2 separate regions of the Homo sapiens genome follow, and region 1 is linked to region 2. Evidence: fine-mapped expression QTL. A gene starts in region 2. The other region holds a variant in brackets. All regions are shown on one strand. Distances are from middle to middle. Region 1 has its middle 26 kb from the start of APLP2. Region 2 holds the start of APLP2 (amyloid beta precursor like protein 2).

What was found. PIP is the estimated chance that this variant, and not a neighbour inherited with it, causes the effect.
Region 1: its variant is fine-mapped to the expression of APLP2 in whole blood (TOPMed, PIP above 0.99).

The regions. Positions count from the first base shown.
Region 1 is chr11:130,039,568-130,047,896 of GRCh38, reverse strand. No RefSeq gene overlaps it. Among named protein-coding and RNA genes, the nearest start is that of APLP2, 26 kb to the left of the region's middle. The variant T/A (reference allele first, on the strand shown) is at 4,155.
Region 2 is chr11:130,066,590-130,074,918 of GRCh38, reverse strand. It overlaps APLP2 (amyloid beta precursor like protein 2), which reads right to left and starts at 5,025. Exons shown (of 17, transcript NM_001142276.2): 1 at 4,837-5,025. The coding sequence starts at 4,941. LOC107984432 (a long non-coding RNA gene) reads left to right here and starts at 5,270. Exons shown (of 2, transcript XR_001748444.2): 1 at 5,270-5,455; 2 at 5,806-7,041. RefSeq lists silencers at 4,137-4,596, 4,667-4,796, 5,187-5,416 and enhancers at 5,333-5,833, 5,834-6,334.

The sequences.
Region 1 (8,329 bases), 27 kb after region 2:
GTTTTGTTTTGTTTTGTTTTGTTTTGACAGAGTCTTGCTCTGTCGTGCAGGCTGGAGTGCAGTGGCATGATCTCAGCTCACTGCAACCTCTGCCTCCTGGGTTCAAGCGATTCTCCTGTCTCAGCCTCCTGAGTAGCTGGGACTACAAGCATGTGCCACAAAACCTGACTAATTTTTTTGTATTTTTAGTAGAGTGGGGGTTTCACCCTGTTGGTCAGGCTAGTCTCGAACTCCTGACCTCAAAAGATTTACCAGTCTCGGCCTCCCAAAGTGTTGGGATTACAGGTGTGAGCCACTGCACCCAGGCTTCAATTGTTTTAAAACTGCACTTGTATGTATAAATAAACACAAAAGATGAGAGGTATGTACATCAAAAATGTTTATAGTTGTTATTTCTATTATTTTAGTTAGGTTATTGTTATTATTGCCTTTATCATTTTGTTTTCTCCAGATTTTTAGCATTGAGCTGAAACTTTTTTTTTTTTTTTTTTTTAGACAAGGTCTTGCTCTGTTACCCAAGCTGGAGTGCAGTGGTTTGATCACGACTCACTGTAATGTTGAACTCCTGGGCTCAAGTGATACTCCTGCCTCAGCTTCCTGAACAGCTAGGATGTCTGGTTAAAGGTGTTTTTGTTTTTTTTTTTTTTGTAGAGACAAGGGTCAAGTGTCTCACTATGTTGCCCAGACTAGACTTGAACTCCTGGCCTCAAGTGATCCTCCCACCTTGGCCTCCCAAAGCCCTGGGATTATGGGCCACTGCAAATGGCCCTAAAACATTTCTTAAGAACACATTTTTTCAATAGGGAAAAGCACAGAAAATAATACAGTAAACACGTGCCTACCATCAAGATGGAACAGTTAGTTGTTCACAGTTTGTTATATTTGTTTTACACATTTCCTTTTTTGAAGAAAGAAATAAAACACTATAGCTATAGCTGAAGCCCCTTGTGTACCCTTCCCCAGTGCCATTGCACTTTCTCCCCAGGAGCAATCTTTAATGTGAATTTAGAATGTTTTCCTATCTTTTTTCCAACCCATTGCAGGTGGGAGATTTTGTACCCCGATTCACTGCCTCTCACAGTGTCTTAGGTAGCCCTGGTCTTAGGTTTTCATTCTGCCCCAAGAGCTGCCATTCTAAGTACTTTTCCCACGCACATGTGTGTGCGTGTGTGTGATTATTTTCTGTATATATATATATGCATTTATTGTGCATTTTAAAACACACAAAGCATGTATATATGTAATTATATGCTCACATATGTAATATACACATATATATTACAAAAGCATATATATAAGTAATATAGATAAGAAGAAGCATATGCTTTGTGTGTTTATTTTATTTTATTTTATTAATGGAGTTTCACTCTTGTCGCCCAGGCTGGGATGCAATGGCACAATCTCAGCTCACTGCAACCTCCGCCTCCCAGGTTCAAGAGATTCTCCAGCCTCAGCCTCCTGGGTAGCTGGGATTACAGGCACCCGCCACCACACCCAGCTAATTTTTTTTATATTTTTAGTAGCAAGGGGGTTTCTCCATGTTGGCCAGGCTGGTCTGGAACTCCTGGCCTCAGGTGATCCACCTGCCTTGGCCTCCCAAAGTGCTGGGATTACAGGCGTGAGCCATCATGCCCGGCCTGTCTGTGTGTTTAAATATATATATATATACACACGCACACATGAACATCATGTAGTCCTGCTTTGTGTGTTTAAAAATGCACAATAAATTATATTGCATGTGTTTCTGCAAATTACTCTTTTCATTCAATTTTATGTTTCTGAAAGATGTTAAAACATATACACATATCTTAATTAGAAAAATTATTTTTTGAAAAATCCGGGTGCGGTGGCTCACACTTGTAATCCCAGCACTTTGGGAGGCCGAGGCAGGTGGATCATGAGGTCAGGAGTTCGAGACCAGCCTAGCCAAGATGGCGAAACCCCGTCTCTACTAAAAATACAAAAATTAGCCGGGTGTGGTGGCACATGCCTGTAGTCCCAGCTACTTGGGAGGCTGAAGCAGGAGAACCGCTTGAACCCGGGAGGCGGAGGTTGCAGTGAGCCAAGATGGTGCCATTGGACTACGCCTGGGCGACAAGAGCAAAACTCTGTCTGAAAAAAAAAAGAAAAATTATTTTTTTGGCCGGGAACAGTGGCTCACGCCTATAATCCCAGCACTTTGGGCAGCGGAGGTGGGTGGATCACCTGAGTTCAGGAGTTCGAGACCAGCCTGGCCAACATGGTGAAACCCCACCTCTACTAAAAATACAAAATGTAGCGGGGCATGGTCGCAGGCACCTGTAATCCCAGCTACTCGGGAGGCTGAGGCAGGAGAATCACTTGAGCCCAGGATGCGGAGTTTGCAGTGAACTGAGATCTTGCCATTGCACTCCAGCCTGGGCAACAGAGTGAGACTCTGTCTCTAAAAAATAAAAAAGTAAAGAAAAAGAAAAATTATTTTTTAAAAAACGTTCCATCAAAAACCACCAGCATGGCTGGGCGTGGTGGCTCACGCCTATAATCCTAGCAATCTGGGGGGCCAAGGCAGGCAGATTGCCTGTGCTCCAGAGTTGGAGACCAGCCTGGGCAACACGGTGAAACCCCATCTCTACTAAAATACGAAAAATTAGCCAGGCATGGTGGCTTGCGTCTGTAGTCCCAGCTAATTGGAAGGCTGAGGCAGGAGAATCACTTGAACCCCAGAAGCATAGGTTTCAGTGAGCCGAGATCGCACCACTGCACTCCTGCCTCCTGGGTGATAGAGTGAGACTCCATCTCTGGAAATAAATAAATAAATAAATAAATAAATAAATAAAATAATAACAATAAAAGGAAACTTTTTTCTAGAAATCTATGATGTGTATTTTCATGTCACCTCATTTGAGTTTCCTAAGAAGTCTAGGAAGCAGGTATTATTATTAATCCCACCTAACAGATGGAGAAACATCATTCAAGAAGTTGAGACTTCCTCTCCCGTCTCCCTCCTCTCCCTCCTCTCCCTCCTCTCCCTCCTCTCCCTCTCTTTCCACGGTCTCCCTCTGATGCAGAGCTGAAGCTGGACTGTCCTGCTGCCATCTCGGCTCACTGCAACCTCCCTGCCTGGTTCTCCTGCCTCAGCCTGCAGAGTGCCTGCGATTGCAGGCGTGCGCCGCCACGCCTGACGGGTTTTCGTATTTTTTTGGTGGAGACGGGGTTTCGCCGTGTTGGCCGGGCTGGTCTCCAGCTCCTGACCGCAAGTGATCTGCCTGCCTCGGCCTCCCGAGGTGCCAGGATTGCAGACGGAGTCTCGCTCACTCAGTGCTCAATGTTGCCCAGGCTGGAGTGCAGTGGCGTGATCTCGGCTCGCTACAACCTCCACCTCCCAGCCGCCTGCCTTGGCCTCCCAAAGTGCCGAGACTGCAGCCTCTGCCCGGCCGCCACCCCGTCTGGGAAGTGAAGAGCGTCTCTGCCTGGCCGCCCATCGTCTGAGATGTGGGGAGCGCCTCTGCCCGGCCGCCCCTACTGGGAAGTGAGGAGCCCCTCTGCCCGGCCACCACCCCGTCTGGAAAGTGAGGAGTGTCTCTGCCCGGCCGCCCCATCTGAGAAGTGAGGAGCGCCTCTGCCTGGCAGCCACCCCATCCGGGAGGGAGGTGGGGGGTCAGCCCCCCGCCCGGCCAGCCGCCCCGTCCGGGAGGTGAGGGGCGCCTCTGCCCGGCCGCCCCTACTGGGAAGTGAGGAGCCCCTCTGCCCGGCCACCACCCCGTCTGGGAGGTGTACCCAACAGCTCATTGAGAACGGGCCATGATGACAATGGCGGTTTTGTGGAATAGAAAGGGGGGAAAGGTGGGGAGAAGATTGAGAAATCGGATGGTTGCCGTGTCTGTGTAGAAAGAGGTAGACATGGGAGACTTTTCATTTTGTGCTGTACTAAGAAAAATTCTTCTTCCTTGGGAAAAAAAAAAAAAAAAAAAGAAGTTGAGACTTGCCCAAGGCTGAATAGTTAACAAGAGGCTGAACCTGAAATCACAGCCTGGCTTTCACCCCTGGCTTTGCAGGCGGGAGATTTTGCACCCGGCTGATGCACTGCCTCTCACAGTGCCTTGGGCAGCTCCAGCCTGGGGTTTTCATTTTGCCCTAAGAACGGTCAGTGGAGAGTAAAGTCTGTTGGGCAAACT[T/A]CTCCCTTGCTGACCAACGAAAGGCAAGCATCAAGAAATCAGGAAGAGGGAAGAGAAACAGAGCAAATGAGGAAAACAGAAAGAGGAAATAACAAGCTGGAACGCTGGTGGCTCTGTGGTTAAAAAGAGAGGAAAATATAAATGGAGAGAAAATGGTCATTTTGGTCAAGTATAAAAGGTAGACAAAGGTTGCTGAAGATTGAGAAGAGAAACAGGTTAGACACCATTCTACCCCACATCTTTCAGTACCTTCGCTGGCAACCCCAGGGTTGGAGGGTGGGGCCGGGAGCAACTCTTCACTTCCCCTAGAGCAGAGTTTCCCAAAATATAGCAGATATCAAAGATAATTTTAGATATTACAATAACAGGCATTAGTTGAATGGCAGGGTACAAAAATGAAATATTTTGAAATTGTTTTAATCCTTCTCTCCCCAATTGACTGAACAGTCTGAATCAAATGGAGTAGCAAAAGAAATATTTCACTTTCTTTAACTACCACCTTCCACATACTCAATCTCTCTCTCATTGTAGGGAAGAAAGATTATTCCCTCTTTCCAAATATTTCCCATATTCTTGGTAAGCCATTAACTTGAGGAAAGGTAAGTTTCTCTTAACTACCTCTTGGGCAGAGCCCATAAATATCTGATCAGTTTTAGTTACCAGAAAAAGCCAGTGTCGTTTAAATTTTTAATTTCATATCCAAATTAGTGTTTGCCTGGTGCCCTTCTGCATCCCTCTAGGTTCCTTTCTCCTCCGGGGAAGGGAACACATGCCCCCCTCCACAAGAGATGCCCTGTGGTCCTCTCTGGGCCGCACGGCCCCTCCCTGGCTGCTGATGCCCGCTTGTCCAGGAATCCGAGTTCAGACTCTCATGGCAGTGTGAGGGTGAGTTTTTTGGTGAGCTGTGCAGTTCCCCGACATGGGAGGGTCACCAGGGCTTGACCACTTCAACTGTCCCTCAGCTCCCATTCCTAGGGGTCACGATTAGGGTCATACACATCCAAACTCTACGGGGTGCACACTGGGCTCCCCAGGTCCCCTCACACTCCACAGGCTGCGAGCCGCGCCTTTCGGACTATCCCATTCTCAGCAATTCTCCCAGGCCCCTCACTGAACCTCCACGTCATGCTACCTGCCACCCGACCCCAACCCCTATCCCCAGCATCTCCAGCTCCGCTTCCACGGACTCTGACTGGATGATGATGAAGCCGCAGGAGCAGGTGAGCCACCGTGATAAGCCCTGAGGAGGTGTCTGGCCTCAGTCTTTCAGCTCTGCGGAACAGCGGGAAATGCGAAAGCGCTTCTCTGTTCTCGACCGTGGACCCCGGTCTCCAGTGTGATTGCATCTAGTATGGCAAAGCCGCCTCTCTCACGCTTAGCCTCCTTTCTGTCCCTACTCAGAGAGAGAGCAAGCCTTCTTTAGGCAACAGCATCCATCCACAAACTAAGACCATTTGGCCTTCCTCGTGCTTATTTTCACTGTACACTGTACAGTCATGCGTTGCTGAACAACAGGATATGTCTGGGAAACGCATCATCAGGTGATTTCATCATTGTTCAAACATCCTAGAGTGCACTTACACAAACCCAGATGGCACAGCCTACTACACATCCAGGCTGTATGATACAGCCTATGGTTCCCAGGCTACCTTCCTGCGTGTATACCGCACAGTGCTGAATACTGCAGGCAATTGTAACACAATGGTAAGTATTTGTGTATCTAAACATAGAAAAGGTACAGTAAAAATGCCAAATGAAAGACTTTTTTTGGGGGCGGGCACGGTGGCTCACGCCTGTAATCCCAGCACTTTGGGAGGCCAAGACCGGCAGATCACGAGGTCAGGAGATCGAGACCATCCTGGCTAACACGGTGAAACCCCGTCTCTACTAAAAAACAAAAACAAAAACAAAAACAAAAAATTAGCCAGGAGTGGTTGCGGGCTCCTGTAGTCTCAGCTACTCGGGAGGCTGAGGCAGGAGAATGGCGTGAACCCGGGAGGCGGAGCTTGCAGTGAGCCGAGATCGCGCCACTGCACTCCAGCCTGGGCGACAGAGCGAGACTCCGTCTCAAAAAAAAAAAAAAAAAAAAAAGAAAGTTTTTTTTTATAAAGGAACACCTGTCTAGGCACTTTCCATGACTGGAGCTTACAGGACTGGAAGTTGGGTGAGTCAATGAGCGGGCAGTGAGGCGATGTGAAGGCCTGGGGCATTCTGTGCACTATACTTAGGCTACATTAAATTTATTTTAAAAATTTTATTTCTTCAATAATACATTAACTTTTAAATTTTTGAAAAATTTTTAAATTTTTATTTTTTATTTGAGACGGAGTCTTTCTCTGTAGTCCAGACTGGAGTGCAGTGGCACGATCTTGGCTCACTGCAACCTCTGCCTCCCAGGTTCAAGTGATTCTCCTGCCTCAGCCTTCCCAGCAGCTGGGATTACAGGCGACCGCTACCACACCCAGCTAATTGTTGTATTTGTAGTAGAGACGGGGTTTCAACATATTGGTCAGGTTGGTCTCGATCTCCCGACCTCAAGTGATCCGCCCGCCTCGGCCTCCCAAAGTGCTGGGATTACAGGCGTAAGCCACCGCGCTGGGCCAATTTTTTTTTTTGACAGGAAGTAGGATTTATTAATGAGCATTAGGAGGGGACAGCACAGTGGAATCTCTCATGAGCTCAGAGTCCGATACTTGCCCAGGGCGCCGCGAGTGGGGATGTATCGGACCCTACAGCCATCTGGGATGAGCCGCTTCTCAGCCACATGTCTTCAAATTCATCCGAATCGAAGGTGGCAAAGCCCAGTCTCCGACACCTGGGTCTTCTGGCGCCGGGAACCTGTCCTTGGCCCTGCACAGTCATGTGCTCCGTGTTCCGCGGTTTGGTGCGGACGGACTTGACAACCCGGCCCCTGCGAACCTGGCCCCGGCCGCGGGGGCTTTCCACAGGCACCTGCAGGCCTGTCTGGAGCCTGCAGCCCCAGCGCAGGACGAGACCTTGTATTGAGGATGACGCGGACGGGGTGGGGAAGCCCTGGGAGGTGAGAGCGTCCCGGCCACCACTTTGACCGTGCGCTTGACATAAATGTGCGCAGCTTCCCCGGCTGCAGAGTGGAGCGGCTCGCGTTCATCCGACACCAGGTAGGGATCTCACCATGTGGCCAGAGGGGGAAGGCTTTTGCCTTCTTCCGTCCCAGGTCAAAGATACACGTGTTGGCCTCGGGGACACTCCCCAGCCCCCAGCGGAACCGAGGCTTGGGGTGCAAATTCGTTCTTGCAGTTCCAGCAACACCGGGGGCGCAGCCCGTGGCAACGCCGAGGTCTCCCGGGGCGCAGAAAGGAAAGACCCCTCTATAATCTTACGTGACCACCATCGCATACGCGGCCTGTAGTTGACTGAAACGTTATCTGGCGCGTGACTGTAGTGACTTTCCATTTACCATAGACATCGGTGTTTTTTGTTTGTTTGTTTGTTTGTTTGTTTGTTTGTTTGTTTTTTGAAACGGAGTCTCGCTCTGTTGCCAGGCTGGAGTGCAGTGGTGCAATCTCAGCTCACTGCCACCTCTGCCTCCCGGGTTCCAGCGATTCTCCTGCCTCACCCTCCCGTGTAGCTGGGACTAGAGGCGCCCACCACCATGCCCGGCTACATTTTTGTATTTTTAGTAGAGACGGGGTTTCACCGTGTTAGCCAGGATGGTCTGGATCTCCTGACCTCGTGATCCGCCCGCCTCGGCCTCCCAAAGTGCTGGGATTACAGGCGTGAGCCACTGTGCCTGGCCTAAAATCTGTTTTTTATTTGTAAGGTTTTTTGTTTGTTTTTTGAGACAGGGCCTCACTCTGTCACCCAGCCTGGAGTACAGTGGCACGATCGTGGCTCACTGCAACCTCGACTTCCTGGGCTCAAGCAGTCCTCCCACCTCAGCCTCCCGCGGCAAATTTTTGCATTTTTTGCAGAGATGGGGGTCTCGCCATATTGCCCAGGCTGGTGTTGAGCTCCTGAGCTCAAGTGATCCACTTGCCTTGGTCTTCCAAAGTGCTAGGATTACAGGTGTGAACCACCAGCACCTGGCCTCATTTATAAGTTTTTTAAAAACCAAGTGGGTTTAAATAAAAACGTTAGGTTAACAATTGATTGTACAGGTGGTAAGTAGCCATTATGGAAAAAAAAAATAGTGA
Region 2 (8,329 bases):
ATTCTCTCTCAACTGGCCCCTCCATGGAAACTACAATTACTGTACAAAGATTTACCCCTACTTTTTGTCACACGGAAAACATTATTTTCTTTGAGTAGTTCATGTTAGCATAATTCGAAATAATCATTGTTAGGTGCTGGCTTCAATATGCAGTATGTGCCATTTTTATAAAATTTATGTACATGACCTATCTATTAACAGAAGGGTATATACAATATTACAGTAAGGTTTCCCTGGGGAATAAGATTTTAGGTCATTTTTCACTTCTTATTGGTTATCTGTACTTTTAAATTTCTTACAATGAATATGTACTACCTATAGAATTCTTCTTCTGTTATTTTAGAAAGAAAATCCAAAAGCCTCAAAATTTAGTAAGGGTAAACAGAATTAAACAATCTTGAAAGGGGCCAGGTGTGGAGGCTCACGCCTGTAATCCCAGCACTTTGGAAGGCCAAGGCAGGCAGATCACAAGGTCAGAAGTTTGGAACCAGCCTGGCCAATATGGTGAAACCCTGTCTCTACTAAAAATATAAAAATGAGCCAGGCATGGTGGTGGGCTCCTGTAGTCCCAGCTACTCTGGAGGCTGAGGCAGGAGAGTCGCTTGAACCTGAAAAACGGAGGTTGCAGTAAGCCGAGATCATGCCAGTGCACTCCAGCCTGGGCGACAGAGTGAGACTCCAACTCAAAAAAGAAAAACAAAACAACAACAACAACAACAAAACATGTTTTCAAATGCTATAAAGAACATGATTGGGTCAACAAACTAACTAGAAAACCGACAGCAGATAAGATCCAAGTATTGTATCAATGTTAAATTTCATTAGGTTGATGGCTGTACTAAGCCTATGTAAGACAATGTCTTTGGCTCTTAGAAAATATATACTGAAGTTCTCAGGGGTAAAGGGGATGGGGGACGACGTATGCAACTTACTCTCAAATAATTTGGCAAAAAATGCAGTAGTAAAGCAAATGTGACTAGAAGAAATGTTAACAATTGGTGAATCTGAGTAAAGGGTAAGAAAATTGTACAATTTTTGCATTTTTTATAAGATTAAAGTTATTTCTTTTTTTTATTCTTGTTTTCTTGAGATGGAGTCTCGCTCTGTTGCCCAGGCTGGAGTGCAGTGGTGTGATCTCGGCTCACTGTAACCTCCACCTCCCAGATTCTCCTGCCTCAGCCTCCTGAGTAGCTGGGATTACAGGCGCACGCCATCTCGCCCAGCTAATTTTTGTATTTTTAGTAGAGACGGAGTTTCACCATGTTGCTCAGGCTGGTCTCGAACTCCTGACCTCGTGATCCACCCACCTCGGCCTCCCAAAGTGCTAGGATTACAGGCGTGAGCCACCGCGCCTGGTGATTAAAGTTATTTCTAAGTAAAACATTTTTAATTGAAAAAGTTTAAAAATCAACACATTCAAAATTGTTCTAACAAAAATACTTAAGAGCATGTTGGGCCAACTTCCAGCAAGACTTTATGTGGAAAAATATAGGAACATATTAAAAAATTCTGCTAATAAAAACATATGCAGGACCAACTTTAAGCAAAATTTTAAATCAGCACCATCTAACAGAAATACAATGTGAGCCACATACATAGTATTAAATTTTCTAGGAACCATATTAGAGTGAAAAGAAACAAGTGAAATTAATTTTAATGTTTTATTTAGCCCATGTCTAAAGTATTGTTTCAATTTAGTCAATACAAAAATTGAGATTTTAATTCTTCTGTATTAAATCTTCAAAATCTGATGTGTATGTTACACTTCCAGTACATCTCAATTCAGAAGCTAAATTTTCATAGGAAATACTTGATCTACATTTAGATTTCATAAAATGTACAGTTTAAAAGTAAATTCGCATAACCAAATTATTTCAGTTAAAAGTTTTCCAACCACTGAATCAGATTTTAAATGTAAACTTAAATTAATTAAAATTAAATAAAATGAAAAATTCACTCCTCATTCACACTAGTCACCCTACAGACTCAATAACCACATGTGGCTTGTGGCTACACCCTGGGAAAGCCTGGCTTTAGATGGTAAAACAAATTCCCTCTACAAAAGGAGGAACTAATTGATAAAACTGAAGTTTATCGTATTTATCAAAAGATTTTTAAAACATAGTTATGATAAAAATAACGGGCCGGGCGCTGTGGCTCACGCCTGTAATCCCAGCACTTTGGGAGGCCGAGGCAGGTGGATCACCTGAGATCAGGTGTTCCAGACCAGCCTGGCCAACATGGTGAAACCCTGTCTCTACTAAAAATACAAAAATTAGCTGGGCGTGGTGGCAGGCGCCTGCAATCCCAGCTACTTGGGAGTCTGAGGCAGGAGAATCGCTTGAACTCGGAAGGCGGAAGTTGCAGTGAGCCCAGAGATCCCACCATTGCACTCCAGCCTGGGACAGAGCGAGACTCCGTATCAAAAAAAAAAAAAAAAAAAAGACGATATTCCTATCAGAAGCACACCAAGGTTTCTCTCCAAGGTACAATTACACATCTCCCATACCACCTGTCAGAAACACCAACACAAAGCCTTCTCTACTCTGCCTCAGTTGACATCCTTTAATTTGGGTTTGAGTTTCCAGAAAACTGGCAATCAAATGGCCTTCTTTCTTTCAAATGTGACAGAACAAACTCAAGTTCCGGTTCTCAGGAGCCTAGTCATCCACTGCACAGTATGCGGGGTTTCAGCACAATACTGTCTCAGTCCCAAATGGGAGCATGCACACAGGAGAACTTGTCTCGGATTTAAGAGAGGAAGTGACCCTGAGTCCAGAGGTGAGCTTTTTCTTTTTAAACAGGTGTAAGAGATTAATTCAGTCAACACCAAGCAACACTAAAGATTTGCCAATCAATAATTCTGTGCCAAGCAACTTGATCAGGGATTTGGCCAGAATCCCTTTCGCTAATCTCAATCAGGGCCTTCCCAAAGACATCCTGATTTAGGCCACTCTCATCTAAATTAAGCTTCGACAGTCCCTTGCCTGACAGCAAATAAACAAAATCAAATTATATTCATATGAATAAAATTCTGATAGCTTGACAAAAGGCCCCTTGAAAGATCATTTAGTAAGTGTGAGCAAAAATACAGCTCCAAAGAACAGGAGTTACCATAAAACCATTTTTCAGAAATGTTTAATTCCTACTTTCTTCAACCATACTTTTCAACTGAACAACGCTGTGGCTAACAATCAAATTTAACACACAACAATGAATTCTCATATTATTTTTTCCCGCTACACAAGTATTAACGAATTCTTTAAAACTGCTGAGTCTTCTACTGTGAATTCACTAATGCCTCAAATTAGTCATAGCAGTGGGAAGTGGAGTGCGAGTGTGAACGATGGTTTCTGACACCCGACCCACTAGTGAAGTCCCATCTTCCATACGAAAGCCTTTATTTTTTCTTCCCATCTCACTCACCTAGCTGTTTTCATGCGACATATCAGGGATCACAGATACAACTCTGACCATTGTGTGGACACACTGAAACAATCGCAATCCAAAATCCTCTGTAGATAAACGTTAACTATTTCTCTTTAAAGCTGAACTCCTTTCTTACCCTCACAGTCACAAAGCTTTAAACTGGATGAATACAAAGGTGTTAAGCCGTTCCATCAGAGAGGCTTTTTATTAGATTTATTTTTACCCGTGGAAATACTTGAACATTCTGTAGAAGTAAATATATTCTAAACCTGAGGTCTTTAAAAGAAAGCTCTCAATTAATGCCCAATCAAATCCAGTCTTCAGGTCTCTCTGAAATTAGCTAAGTATGCAGAAACCAGTTGTAATTTTTAAAAGAGCGAAGAGGGAGAAGAAATAAACGACACCAGAACTACACATTCCAGACCAGCAGTTCAAGCACCACTTCGAGAAGGGAAGTAAAGATCAAGCTCGCCGTCTCCCTCGGCCACAGCAGGGCTCCTCCAAGGCTGCCCGCTCCGGCCCGCACCGCGGACCCCGCCGCCCCCGCCCCCTCCCGCGGCCTCCCCAACCCCCGGCCCTGCCGCTTCGCCTTTCTCGCAGCGGGGATGCTCAGGGTGCGACCTCGAAGCACAACCACTGATGGAATTCTGACACCCGAAGAGGACGATTTTTCCAACAGTTTACACGCCTTCGCGGGCACCTTCCCTACTCACTGAAACCCTCACGAAAGCGGTCAACGCACCCAGAGCGGGTTTCCTCGGTCTACGGACGCAGGCAAACAGCGCCACTTAAAAAATGCGCGTCCGCGACCCGGCCCCAGGCGGCAGAGGGAGCAGCGGGCGGCCTGGCGCGGGAGCTCCCCCGGGGCTCGCAGCATCCCTGCCGCGCGCGAAGGCCGGGGCCGCGTCCACCTGGCAACAAAGGCGAAGCCCGCCGCTCGCAGGTGGGAGGCCCGGAGCCGAGGCCCCGGTGCCGCGCGAGGGAGCGTACGGGGTCCGCGCGGGGCCGCCCCTGGAGAAAGCCCAGCCGCGGACTCCGGCGGGAGAGGAGCGCCCTGGCATTGTCCCGGGGGAGGGCGGGGCGGGCGCCCGGGGGCACTGGGTCCCCGGAGGAGGTGGCGGCGCCGCGGGCGGGTTGGGGGCTGGGTCGGCCGAGGCGGACGGCCGCCCCCAGCAGCCCCGACGCCTTTCATTTGGCCTCTGCGGCGGCTGAGGCAGCCCGACCTCCAGCGCTAAGCACTGCGCCAAGCAGGGACGGGCGGGGGAGGGCGCGCCAGACCCGCCGCAGAGCCGGACCCCCGGCGCCGCACCGCCGGCCCGCCCTGCCGCGGACCCCGCTGCCCGCCCGCAGTCCGCGCTCCTCCGGCGGGCGAAGGAGACGACTCTCCGGCGTTCGCCCGGTCCCCACCTCGATGTAGCCGGCCAGCGCCAAGGCAGGCGCCGTGAGCCCCACCAGCAGCAGAAGCAGGAGCCTGCCCGTGGCTGCGGCGGCCGCGGTCCCGGTGGCCGCCATCCCTCGCCGGGTCGCTCTAGCGCGCGGCTCTCAAGCTCACACACTCGGACTCCTCGCTTAGCACACCGCGACCCAGAAGCATCTAAAGCCAGTTCGCCGCCGCCCCGGGGGTTTTACACCAACCGGAACTGACTTCATATTACCACGCCCTCCTTCTGCGGCTCCCAATGCCGGCCCGCAGAACCCCTCAAGACCCCGCCCCCTTGCGGTCCAGACCCAATCAGGAGATGGAAGAGCCTGCTCCTCCCGCCCGGTCCAACCGCGCGCCCCCCGCCCGGCCCCGCCCCCGGCCGCGGATGGCCCCGCCCCCGCTCCGGACCCTGTGGCCGCCAGGCGCGGGGGCGTGCGCGCGGCGGGTCTGGGGCCGCAACCCTGTGGGCGCGGGGCTGGCTCTGGCCTCCGCCCCCCGGCGCGGTTATCTGTCCCTGCTGCGCTGGTCCGTCAGCCTTCAGCCTCCCGATACGGGCACGCCCCGCTCCCCTGCCCCTGCTGGGCATTCTTCAGACTCCTTTGGGTACCGCCCTCTTTTTGATTCTGGAAATGGTTTTATTAAAAACAGGATGAATTAGGAGTCCGGGACGGTCTGCCAAGGGCCGTCCCCCGAGGCAGGGGGAGGACCGCAGGAGGCAGCCATCGTCCTCCCCCGAGCCCTACTCAGGGCGCGCCTCTCCCGCCCTGCTCCGCCCAGGCCTCTCCGCCGGGTCCTCGCCTCTGAGTCCGGCCGCGCTCCGCACCCTTGGCCTCCGGTCTTTAGGCCTCTTGCCGACCCTTCCTTCCCAGCAGTTGCCCAGGCAGGGATAGAGACCAGGGGTGCAAGAACCACGCCGGCCTCACAGCCCAGGCCCCCTTCCTCGTGTGTTTTAGGAAGAGATCACGCCGCTTCTTCGGTTGAGACGCACTAGCGGGAGACCTGCTACTCTGCCTTCCTGCTCCGCGGCATTGCCACTTCAGTAGAGAAAAACGTCCTGCTGCCCCATTTAGCAATTGGCACAGCCTCGCCACCGCCAGGGCTCCGCTGGCCTTGTTTCCTTTCAGTCGCCTGTGAGTTAGGTACTGCCTTCTGAGAGACCTGGACTAGTCCCTTCAGGTTCAACTAAATGCATAACACAACCCTACCCCCAGGACGCTGACAATAGAAAGGAAGAGACTGTCCGCGGAGTAGACGAGTGCGCCTGTAAGAACTCGGGATTTTCCAGCCTTATTCTGCACCACTCTCCCCTACATGCCCAGTTCCCTGTGGGTAAACTGGCTCTGCCCGATTCCTCCAAGACGACACCTTTCCATTTCACAGCCCTTCCTAACACTCTTCTGCGCCTGCAATGTCCTCTCCCCAACATCTGCCTGTTGGAAGCGTTTTCACTGTTCCTCGGCTCAGTCGGCTGAAATATCGCTTCTGATTGCTCAGAGGGATGTTTCCCACTGTGGCACTCGCTCCCTAGTTATTCCATACCTCTCTCAGGTCACTGACAAGACTTGGGTCTGTCATGCCGCAGTGCCCCTCACAGTGCAGTCCTCGATAAATGTTTGCCCAGTGTTATTGAACCCAGTTATCTTGGGTGCTGATACTAGTTCTGGAACTGGCATGAATTTGGCTCTTGCTATGGACCGAATTTTGTCCCCACCCCTAATGTGTGTGCCGAAGCGCTGAACCCCAGTGTGATGGTTATTTGTAAATGGGGCCTTTGGGAGGTAATCGGATTTGGATGAGGTCATGGAGGTAGCAGGTCATGATGGGATGAGTGCCTTTATTAGGAGAGACACCAAAGAGCTTGCTTTTCTCTCACACTCTCTGTCCCCTACCCCCAACCTCAGCCCTCACCTCCCTCCTCCATGTGCGAACACAGCAAGAAGGCCGCCATCTGCAAACCAGGAAGAGGTCCATCACTGAGGGGCCAAAGTGGCACCTTGAGCTTGGACTTCCCAGGCTTCAAGAACTGTGAAAAATAAATCCCTGTTGTTGAAGCCCCCCAGCCTATGTTATTTTGTTGCAGCAGCCGGAGCTGACTGACACAGCCGCATGATCACCGGCAAGTTCCTCCATCGCTTGGGACTCTCTTTTCTTCTCTGTCAAATGTGAATATTAAAACCTGTCTCACTGCACCGCTTTGTGTGATTGAACTTAAAATGAATGTACAATAGTGAAAAGCATGAAGTGACTTAAATGTAAGGGGTAGGAGGGTAAAGCGATGTATTACTAAGTGCAGGTTCATCTGCAAGTATGTGGGAAAAGTATCAAGTGACTACCTAAATCCTCATTGAGTTGTTGAGCCTAGGGTAGGACATGTAGCCCCTCTGGGGCCTGTTACCTCACCTACAAAATCAGGGCCTTGAACTCAGGGAAAAGCAAGTGAGATATCTGAGTTCAGTGGCGTGGATATTCATGCTTTGGAGACTGTATCTTCAAGACTGAGCTTTAATATCATGGGATAGTACAAGGAAATACAGGAACATAATTTAGAGGGCCTTCAGTCTAAACTTAGGTCTTGAAAGAAGTTTATTTGCATTTTCAAGTTATGGAAGGATCGTTACTAAGAGTTGATAGCCCCATTCATCAACATTCTGTACTTTAAAATGTTATGGTCTTTTTATTAAATGACACTGACAGGAACATACCTGGTCTTGCAATTCTCAATAATTTTTCATTCCAAATATGCTCATGTCAGTGACCAAGGCTTATGAGTAGTATGTTTTCATTTTATTATCTTTTATGCATAAAAGCAAAAGGACCTAAAATAACCTCCTGGCTGGGCACAGTGGCTCACACCTGTAATCCTAGCACTTTGGGAGACCGAAGCGGGTGGATCACCTGAAGTCAGGAGTTCCAGACCAGCCTGGCCAACATGATGAAACCCTGTCTCTACTAAAAATACAAAAAAAAAAAAAAAAAAAAAAAAAAAGCTGGGCGTGGTGGCAGGCGCCTGTAGTCCCAGCTACTTCGGAGGCTGAGGCAGGAGAATTGCTTGAGCCCAGGAGGCGTAGGTTGCAGTGAACCGAGATTGTGCCACTGCACTCCAGCCTGGGTAGCAGAGCGAGACTCTTGTCTCACAAAAATAAAAATAACATAAAGTAAAATAAAATAACCTCATGTTTCTTCTACCTTCTTAAGAATCAGACTTTCTCCTAAATCAGCTCTCTTCTATGCACACTTAAGATGTGTGCATTTCCTTGTTGAAAAAAAACAAAGTTGATTTTCCTAAATGTATACTTAACATGAGGAGAACCCTCACATTAATTTGATACTTATTTATCCAATACCTATTCAGGCTAGGTACAGTTGGCTAGGATAATTGCTCCCAAATCAGGATGCTTTTCAAAATCAACTACGAAGTGTATTTTTATTTTATTTTTGAGACAGTCTCACTCTATCGCCCAAGCTGGAGTGCAGCGG